Linked DNA regions of Homo sapiens. The protein of the gene in region 1 purifies or fractionates together with the protein of each later gene. This does not show direct contact. Each region holds a gene or a part of one and is shown in the gene's direction. Other genes may lie near its edges.

What was found. Proteins that work in one complex are often made in the same cells at the same time.
Region 2: the proteins of LAPTM5 (region 1) and STXBP4 purify together in Homo sapiens (affinity purification with mass spectrometry; one large-scale study listed by BioGRID and IntAct). This does not show direct contact.

What each region holds. Positions count from the first base shown.
Region 1 is NC_000001.11:30,746,559-30,751,974, reverse strand, and holds part of LAPTM5 (lysosomal-associated transmembrane protein 5), read left to right. Parts: exon of another isoform or gene 1-1,631; intron 1,632-2,042; exon of another isoform or gene 2,043-5,416. UniProt on the Homo sapiens protein: May have a special functional role during embryogenesis and in adult hematopoietic cells.
Region 2 is NC_000017.11:54,995,489-55,000,904, forward strand, and holds part of STXBP4 (syntaxin-binding protein 4), read left to right. Parts: intron 1-3,856; coding exon 3,857-3,963; intron 3,964-4,137; coding exon of another isoform or gene 4,138-4,143; coding exon 4,144-4,354; intron 4,355-4,727; coding exon of another isoform or gene 4,728-4,775; intron 4,776-5,319; coding exon 5,320-5,395; intron 5,396-5,416. UniProt on the Homo sapiens protein: Plays a role in the translocation of transport vesicles from the cytoplasm to the plasma membrane. Inhibits the translocation of SLC2A4 from intracellular vesicles to the plasma membrane by STX4A binding and preventing the interaction between STX4A and VAMP2.

The sequences.
Region 1 (5,416 bases):
TTGTGATTGAAAGGAACACAGGCCCATCTCCATTACTTACCAGCAGTGTGACTTGAGCAGGCGGGCACCTTTGTTATCTGAGCCTTGCCTTCCTCATCTGTAAATGGGGCCAGTGGTCCCTGCCTCAAAAGTGATCATTTGGAGGAGACCCTAGCGAAGCCGGGTGGAGGGCTAGCAGGTGAGTGCCTGAAGTGGGCTGTGGAAGAAGAACACAAGGCCCCCCGCCCCTTTTTTTTGAGACTGAGTCTTGCTCTATCACCCAGGCTGGAGTGCAGTGGCGTGATCCTGGCTCACTGCAACCTCTGCCTCCCGGGTTCAAGTGATTCTTGTGCCTCAGCCTCCCAAGTAGCTGGAATCACAGGTGTGTGCCATCATGCCCGGCTAAGTTTTGTATCGTTAGGAGAGATGGGGTTTCACCATGTTGGCCAGGCTGGTCTTGAACTCCTGACCTCAAGTGATCCACCAGCCTCAGCCTCCCAAAGTGCTGGGATTATAGGCGTGGGCCATAGTGCCTGGCCCCACTCCTCTGTTGAAAGTTCATCTGTTTGGGGTTGAAAAATGGGTCCAAACTGCCAGGTGGGGAAAACCCTGGGTGAGAATCTGTTAGAACTTGCCACCTTTATGTCCAGTGCCCCTGGGCTGGACAGAGAGGCCACGTTCTCTGCCACTGCAGCTCTGTGCGCTTCACGGAGGGGTGAGGAGGCCGGTGGGGGCAGGGTGGGAGTTGTAGCCCCTCCTCAGTGTCAGAACTGAGTTGTTCTCCTCACCTCAGGGGTGTGAACCCCAGCTTCTAAAAGCAGGAGGCCCCCATGGCCCATCCCACCCAGAGAGTGGCTGAAGGGCCTAGCCTGGCCTGGCCGAGACTTCTCTGTTGCCAACCTGGCCCCGAGGCCTCCAGGAAGTGAGGCTTTTATTTTGAGCCTAGAGCATCAGCCTGGAACCAGGACTTCGCTCTGAGCTCACTGTGAGGCGAGCGTTGGTTTCCCAGGGGACCCCACCCTGCCAAGGGAAGTGGCACAAAGCACCCCCTAATGAGGCAGGAAGCAAAGCCATGAGCTGCACTGCCTCAGCCCTGCACAGGGGCTGCTTGGGACAAGGCACCCGTCCCCCAGCCTCAATTTCCTCCCTGGTCAAGTGGGATTCAGTAACTACCATTTGTGGCACCGGAAAAATGGCAGCTGCCACGGGGGCCTCCATTTTACAGATGAGGAAACAGGCTCAGGAGGGCAAGTGACTCTGCAGCCTGTGTTAGATAAAGAACCCGAGCCCAGGTGTCTGCTCCAGGTGGAGGCAGGGAAGGCAGCCTTCCTGGCAGCCATGGGATGGGGGAGGGGGTCAGCTCTGCCATCCCCAGAGCCTTGTTCTGAGAAGCACAGAGCCCATGTGTAAAGAGCTGATTTCAATTTTACCTGCAAAATCAGAAAAATATGGGACTCATGTTAGAACCTGTCTCTCAAGACTGGCGCGAGGTTGACACGAGAGAGTGTATGGTCAGTCGGCCCTCCCTATCCGCAGGTTCCACATCGTGGATTGCAGATTGAAAATACTCAGATGCAGAGCCCGTGATACAGAGGGCCGACTGTATAAGTTCAGAAGAGGACCTGGCGTCTAATAAATGCACAACAATAATAGTATCAATACTTATTATCACTATTGTGGGTCTTTGCTCTGAAGATAAAGGGAGAAGTGATGGTTTTAGGGAATCGTTTGGGGAGTGGAGGGTGCTTCCCCAGATATCTAGGAAGTGGAGAATGACAGGGCCTTGTGTCATACCTGGAGGCCAACTCTGAGCCCCCCACTGGCTGCTCCTAAAGGGAGATTTGATAAGCTACCACCAGCCAGAATATCTCTGCTGCTGGGATTCACTGGTACTGTTTGCCTTTGGGGCAAAGTTAGCTGCTAGCGCCCAGTCACAGCACTTCCTGTGCTGCAGGTGACAACCTCCTCCAGCGCCATCTGAGCCGTCCGAGTCTAGGTTCTCTAGGTTTTGCATGAGCCGTCACATCTCCTGCATGCTCTTTCCCCTTTCTCTCTAACCCCAGAGGCCCCACCCCTGCCAAACCGGTGGATCCGTGTGTTCCCCCAGCCAACTGCTGCCATTTACTGAGGCCTGCTGCGTATTCAGCACATGGATGACGCCAAATCACAGTTTACTAAGAGGAACGTCTTGCCGTTTCCTGAATGCGTCTCATGCACACTGGCCTCTGCTCATGCCCTTTCCTCTGCCTGGAACACTTTTTCCATTGCTCTTTCGGGGAATCTTCTTCAAGATCCACCTCCTCTGAGAAGCCCGCCCTGACCCCTACGGTTGGACCCTGAGCTCTGGGTGTTGACCCAGAGCCCTGTGTGCTGGGTCCCTGGGAGTCGTGCCCTCTGGCCTGGATGCTCGTTTGGGTCTTGACCCAGCCTGATTCATCTTCATGATCCCGTGGAACCTGGCACAGGAGGTGCCAGCCAATCTCTATTTGATTTTTGCAAACCTTTTCTTGATGTATAATTTACCTATAGAAAAGCACAGCTATCTTAAGTGCACACCTTGGTGGGCTTCTACAAGGTGAACACACCCATGTGACCTCCACCCAAACTAAGAAATCAGACCAGCACCCAGAGGCCCCTAGAGCCCCCGCCTCGCCACTGCCCCGCCCCCACTGACTTCTGCCTGTCTATGTAGTTCTATAATACATACATCTGTAGAATTACGTAGAAATGAAATTCTGCAGCGCGTGTTCTTTTGTGAGCACTTCTTTCTCCCAACGTTATGTTTGGGAGCTTCGTCTGTGTGGTTGCGGGTAGCTAACTCATTTTTTCCATTGCTGTGTATACTCCATTGTATGAATCTACCACAATGCATTTGCCTGTTTTCCTGCAAAATAACATTTGGATTGATTCCAGCTTGGGGCTGTTACAAATAAGGCAGCCATGGCCACCAGGCTCCGTGCTGGGTGTCCACACACAGGCACCTGTGCTGCTCAGTTGATCTTTCTGAATCACTGTCTTCAATGATTTACTTCTCACACCCACTCCAGGAGGTGGATGGATTCTTCTCTCCCTTCTACAGATGAGGAAATGTTACAGATGAAGTAACATGGCCAGGCCAGGATCCCACAGGGGATCAGCGGCTGCACTGGGGTTCTCACTGAGGTCTGTGAGCCCCAGAGCCCAGTGGAGGGAGGAGGGGATGAGGTGGAGGCGGCGGGTGAGGACGAGAACTGCGGAAGAGTGAAGAGGAGAGAGAAGCCAGGCTCTGGGGAGCTGCAGGCAGCCAGGCCGGGCTGCTGCGGAGTGCGTGGCCCCAGGAATGGGGGCGTCTGGTGGTATCTGGGCTGGCTGGAGAGGTGGTTGGGGAGATAGTGCTCTTGGGGGGCTGGCCCCCACTGAGCCCTCATAAGCTCTGACCAGAAGCACAGGGTGGGGAAGGGGAGCTTCCTCTTGATGGTGACACATCTGACTCCCTTCTCACATCCTCCTCCCAGGCAACCCAGGGAAATCAGGGTGGGCAGGTGAGGTTGAGGGGACTGAGCTTCAGGGAGGGGCCATAATAATAATGATGATGGCAGAAGTGTGAGGCTGTAGGACACAGGGTCAGGGTGGAGCAGCCCTGAGGGGGAGGGGCAAGGGAGGGCTCTGGCACTTGGGACCCATATGGCAAACTGCATTGTCTGTTGGGAAGGGTTGAAGACAAGCCCGGGCCTGTCTTCTTGTGCAGCCTCTGTCCTGGGCTCGCACATTTGGTAGGAGGAGCCAATGAAGTAAACGGATAGGAAAGTGTCCACACTCTGGCTGGCACGGGTGTGTGCTCACTGACGGCTGGGTCCTTTCTCTATAACCTTTACCTCCCTGAAAATCTCAGATGGTGGGTCTCCGCCTGCCTGCTTCTGAGACGGTGGGTCCTGGGCCTCAGGGAGTGAGAGAGAGTGGGCCTGCTCTCCTGCAGAAGGGACTGGTCTTTGAACCCCAGAATCGGGGGTTCTTGTGTCATCACCACCATCCACATGATATTCCTTATCACCATCCTATCCTGATGTCCCCATTGCCGTCACCCCCATCACTGTCACCAACATCACCAACAGCATCTCTGATCATCACTGTCATCACCACGCCAACTCCAACAACATCCCAACAGCCACTCCCCGCCTCACATGGTCACCATGGCCAGTGCCTCCCAGGTGACACCTGGTGCACTGTTTTCACCGCATCCCCTCTGGTACCGCCATCCTTATTGCCCAGCCATGTTCAATACTGACCCCATTGTCCCCATCTTCCCTGATTTCCATCCTCCAGCCCCTGCCCCCATTCTTTTAGCTCAACCTGTTGCTTGCTCCTCAGAGCCACCAGGAAAAGAAACAAATCCCCCTGCCCCTGGCCACTTCCCCAACTGGCCAGCTTGGGGAAGCTGTGTTTGTCATTAAGAAAGAAAGGCTGCGTGCAGACGGGAATAAGAACTGAAACCAAAGATGGGCAGAAGAAGAGGTGAAAAGCGGGAAAGGAGAGTGGGGGTGGGAAGGGTGGCTGAGCATGGCTGGGACCGCAGCCTGAGCCTGGCTTGGAGGCAGGAGGACAGAGCTGATTTTGACCCTGCGACAGTTTTGGTGTGTGACCTTGGGCTGGTCGCTGTCTCTCTCTGGGCCATATTTCCCCGCTGGTAACATCCTCCTCTCAGGGAAGAGACACTCCCGTGCCTTCTGAGTTTCCCTGAAGGGACTGAAACACACCTGCACCACCAGGCCTGTGGCTTTTGCACATGATGTCTGCTCTTTTGGAATGCTTTCTTCTCTTCTGTGTTGGAAAACTCCTACTTGCCCCTCAAAGCCACGCTCATGGGTTTCCTGTTGGTGAAATTCTCCCTAAGTTTTTTAGACAGCAATGCGCTCTCCCTCATCAAGGACCCCAAGCCCCATGCGTGTCCTCTGTCATGGCTCTGAGCACACCATTCATGTATCGAGTTCCCTGGAGACTGTGACACCGGCACGCCAGGGTCAGTGGCTTTTCTAGACAGAGTTTGGAGGCGGTAGGTGCTCAGAGAGTGTTTACTGAGAGTCAGTGAATGCCCAGAGGTAGCAAAAACCACCACCCAATTGTGCTTGTTTATGGTGCACCTGCTGTGTGCCCGGCTCCGCGCACCACACGATTCCATTTGACCTCAGCAATCCTGTGAGGCAGGTCAGTGATTATCCCCATTCCTCAGATGAGGAGCCGAGGCCCAGAGAGGTTAGTGGCTGGCTCAAGGGTGCAGAGCTCGGCTGGGGCCTGGGGCCATCTGACCCCAGCACCCGAGCTCTTATCTTCATGATCTCACCAGCATAGAATGAAGGGACAGTGGGTGAAAAGATGCTGTAATTGGGGAGCAAGTGGGTGAGGGCATGCTGTCTGCCTGCGCATTGTTGGGGGAGAGAAGCCTTGTACCTGTCATGGGATG
Region 2 (5,416 bases), on another chromosome or scaffold:
ATATATATAACATGCATATATCGGTATGTAATATACTTATGAGTGTGTGTATGTACGTATTTTTTCCTCTTCTATCTCTGAAATTATAGGTCTCACAGTCAGTGTCATCATGTAATTTGTGGCATTGAAGTAGGACATATTTAACTTTCAGAGGAAATCTGTTTTCATGCGGAGCATAGCACTGGAACCAGGGCTAAGGCTTTTAGATAAATATCAGGATCAGGCCTCTGGATGGCAAACTATGAAGAAACCAGTCCCACTGGTGGGAGCTGAAGAAGTAGCAGCCAAGATGGTTCGCTTTGCAGTGTCACTCTCTTTATTCCTTTGCCATTATTATTTTTGTCATAGCTACCTTAATTTCCTCAGACTGTTTCTTGGCCCCCTTTAACCTATTGTGGACTTACTGTGTACCTAGCACTGTACCAGGGAAATAACCATGAAAAGGACAGAGTTCTAGTTATGCCTAATGAAAGAATTGGTGATTCTGGCCCACTAAAAGAATCATTGCCCCTAGACTGGGAGTTGCTGATTTAGTATATTCTAATGTGAGGGCAGGGAAAAGCAGATATGTAAACATAAGGACCATACAGAGTAAGTGCAATCCTTTAGGTAAGTAAAAGTGCTTTTTGAGCAAAAAGACACAACGATTAAGTAAATCCTGGGCAACTAGAGAAAACTTCCAGCAGAGATAGTGTTTGAATTGGGCTGTGAAGTTTAAGTCAGAGTTTATTGCAGAGAAGTGGCAGGGTGGATGGTGGCATTCTAGATGGGAATTCATATGTGTGAAAACATTGAGGTTCAAAAGACCATGGCTGGTTTGAGGCACATTCTCTGAGAGTAGAATGAAGAATATGCTGGTGTGGAAGGTGGATGATGAAGCTAGAAAAAGTAAGTTGCAGTAAATTTGTTGTGCTGGGTTTGGGATGTTGAGGAGTTTCAACTTTTCCTACCAGTTGGCAGCCATCAAAGGTTCTCAATCTAATGAGTAATATAATTAAATTTGCTATCAGTATGAAAATTGTCCACAACAGATATGGAAGTCTCATTCACTTCATCTTATTTAACACGTATAATGTGCTATAATTTACATATGTTACTTAATTCTTATAGCAACCTTGTGTTACATATATTTATCCCCATTCTACAGCTAAGAAAATAGAGGTTCATAAAAGCTGAACAACTTGCCTCAGTTCACAGTAATAACTGGAGTTAAAAGAAGGTCACCATCAGTCTACATCTTGTAAAAGTACAGGAAAGGAATCTTAAGGCTTACAGAAGGACTATTCCTTAGTATTAGGTATAATGAGTTAGTTAAGTCAGAATTAGGCTGTATAGATGGTTTCTCATAATATTGAAATGTATTATTTAGAAAACTATATACCAAAGTCAATATAGAAATGAATAGTACTGGTCGTTTTTAACAGAAGTGTTTATGTGGTCAGGAATATATTATTATTTCAACATCTACATGAATGTCAATGTGAAAGAATTCAGATCTGAAGTTCAGCATATGAAAGTGCTTGGCACATTGCCTCCCATGTCAGGTAGTTGCTCTGTAACTGCTGAATTGGAATCTAGACTGTGTGGAAGAGGTCTCAACATATCTCTGAAGTTAGTATCTTCACATATACATTAATCCATCTGGGGCAGAATGCACTCGAATGCCAGACTTACAAAAATAGCTTTGTTTTCATTTGCAGGTTCTGACTTTTAAACAGGTTCAGAAATTCACATGATCAGCTAAGATCTTATTCTAGGAGGCAAAGAAAAAAACTAACTGCTATGAATACTTTTTAGAAAGAAAAAATATGTAAACACCAGAAGTCATAGTCAGAAGGCATTCTTCTTCTTCTCTTTTCTGACTCCCTTCCTGCCAGAAAATGCAGCTTCTATACATCAGTGTACTTTAATACAAGATGGGCTAAATTGCCTTCATGTGAACTTTTTTTCTGTACTAACACTGCATGTTATGTTGTCTGACTTTGCTAACTATGTTTAATCACATATTTACATAAAATCAAAAATTTTTTTTAAATTATATATATAACATAAATATATATAATATAAATATATATATTATATAATATAAATATATATATATTTTATATATTTTATATATATATATATTTTTTTTGAGACAGATTTTTGCTTCATTGCCCAGGCTGGAGAGCAGTGGCGTAGTCATGACCTTGACCTCCTGGGCTCAAGTGATCCTCCCACTTTAGCCTCCTGAGTAACTGAGACTACAGACATGTGCCAGCTATTTTTTTTTTTTTTTTTTGAAAGATGGGGTCTAACTATGTTGCCCAGGCTGGTCTTGAACTCCTGGGCTCAAGCAATCTTTCTGCCTCAGCCTCTCAAAGTGTTGGGTGTACAGATGTGAGCCACCGTGCCTGGCTTATATATTTTTAAAAATTAAGTTGACTCTTTTGGCTTAAGTATTTTAAATAATGTTTACATTTCAGTAGGATAGGGTCATTATGCATCTAGATTATATAATCTTTTACACACTATTTGAGATATGTTTCTATAAAATCCTTTCATGAATGTTTTATGTCAATTTTGTTGTTTTCCTATATATTCTTTAGTCAGTGAAAGAGATAGTACTTCATGTCTTTTTAAAAAATAATAATACCTGTTGTTATTTAGGAGTAAAATAACTGTGAATCACCATTATTACAAATAATACAGCTTAGATCAAAGATCAGTATCCAAGGGATATATTTTAGTAGATAAGACTTTAAAGAAAGATGTTTTCTTGAATTTGTGGAAGTTACTTAAGTACCATCAAGGTGAAAATCTCCCTTTTTAACCATATAAGCTTTTTCTGTAGTTATAAAAATAATGGTTTCTACCACTGTACTAATTAATGATAAATAGGGAAATACCTTAGGAACTGTAAAAGAAGAAAGCTTATTTTTATTTTCTAGTTTGAATGAAAAGAAAAGACAAAAACTGGGAAACTTATCTAACATATCTAACAACCACATTAACTCTTGTTCCTGATATGCTCTGTCTTACTCAGTTAGGCTAGCTGTGAGCAAGCCAGGCCTTAGCAAAGGCAACACCAGGCAGCCAGTTAGAATTGTCATTATTAGCAGGATATGGCTAACAATATATGCACAGCCAACTAGGCCTTAATCATAGGGGGATAGCAGGTATAGTAAAAAAGATTATGCTGAAATATGGGTAGGATCAATATAATTAAAATCCTTGGCCAGGCGCAGTGGCTCACACCTGTAATCCGAGCACTTTGGGAGGCCAAGGTGGGAAGATTGCTTGAGCCCAGGAGTTTGAGACCAGCCTGGGCAATGTAATGAGACCTCATCTCTACAAAAAATTTTGAAAATTTAATTTTTTTTTTTTAAAAACCCTTGACTAAAGTTTTAAAAATCTCAATGTGGGATAAATCCACACACACATTGAACAGTTTGGTGGGAGGACATATGTAGGAATGCAGAGAAAATAAAATAAATGAGTTTTGTATTGTGAAATATCCCACAGTTATTTGGCCCACTTTATCACAGAGTCAGAGCTTTATCAGCCCCATAGTGCTCAGTTTTTAAAACAGGTCCCTTTTCCTGGTATACTGGCCTATGTCCTACCTACCATATTAAGAATTCTTTACCACGTAAATTTATTCATGCAATACATGAACCATTCCATTTTACTCATAATATATGTTACCAAACCAGACTTTAATCAAGAGATTTTGCTACTGAGGTTGTCTAAGATTTTACTTTTTACTCTTTTTGAAGGCATTCTTCACGAAAACTTTTCATTGCTTTAATTACATCAATTAATTTTTTTTTAAATACCTCATTAGTTCCTTTATAAATGTTACTGTTTTTGTTAGGATGGTCGTTTGAAGCCAGGAGATCAACTTGTCTCAGTCAACAAGGAATCTATGATTGGTGTATCATTTGAAGAAGCAAAAAGCATAATTACCGGAGCCAAGTTGAGGTAACTATACTATCCATGAGATAGAATGAGTCATTTAGAATGTCTCCTTGAAAGCAGTAATTTAAGATGTATTAAGTACTTTATAATAAGTATTTTTTAATAACATCTGAAACATTATCTTGGATTTCAGTTGTACTATATTCATAGCATATCCATAAAGTGATTTCTTTTTAGTACTAGGTTAGAATCTGCTTGGGAGATAGCATTCATAAGACAAAAATCCGACAACATTCAGCCAGAAAATCTGTCATGTACATCACTTATAGAAGCTTCAGGAGAATATGGACCTCAAGCCTCAACATTAAGTCTTTTTTCTTCTCCTCCTGAAATACTAATCCCAAAGACCTCATCCACTCCCAAAACAAATAATGACATTTTATCTTCTTGTGAGGTAAGTCAGGTAATCTTAAATTTCTCTATATATGCACTCCATAAATTCCCTATACATTTTTACATTGGTTATGTACATATAGAATTATTTCAGTAAAATTGTTAACAAATTAATATTTCTTTGAAAGATTTTTTTCTATTTAAAATTTTTATGCTGTGTTTTCAATAAACATATTTTAAGTCAGCATGTCCTGTGTCCAGGAGCATGATTGGTTAGAAAATACCAGCATGACAAAATGGTTCCACAAAGATATGCCTAGATATCACTCAAAACTATGTTAAGAATGTCATATTTGGTTTCAGTTGGTTTAGTTATTTGCCATTTCTGTTCTCTGCTTGACTGAAGTGAGGCCATCTTCCTTTTTGTTCCTTAGCTTCTTTCCCACACAGTGAGGCTAATCCCAGGCATCCAATCTAAGAAGGTATTGCTCCTTCATGTGTGCATGCTATAGTTCACCCAAGTAGAATCACACAAAATGGGGAATTTCTATATCAGAATTAACATACTCAATTACTAACTGCTATATTATCTGAACAAATTACAGTTACAGAATAAAGTGTGTATTATTTATATCTGTGTTAGCTGTAAAATAGGAAACTTAAGCTTTTAGTCAGTAGAATAAAATTCATCAAAGGTAACTTCAGTCTCTGGTACATGCTGAACAGAGACAGAGTATAAGATTTTCTGTCAGCCCCTTATACTTTGTCACTTGGAGCTATAATACTTTTAAAAGACAAGATGAGTGGCCTTATATTTTGTTATCCTTGGATGTGGTAGAGCTGAAAGCAATTGTTACCTTTAATTCTGAATTGCTTTGTTTGAAGATGCATATACCAAAATTTTAGAGGTTTCATATTTGAGGGATAATTACTTTAATCTCTTTAACCATTCTTTTTATGTTAACATGGGCTTCAAGTGACCTACTTTAGTAAATGACATTGCATGTTCCTCATTTTCTTTCACAGATAAAAACTGGATACAACAAAACAGTACAGATTCCAATTACTTCAGAAAACAGTACTGTGGGTTTGTCTAATACAGGTAAATACACATTTAATTTCT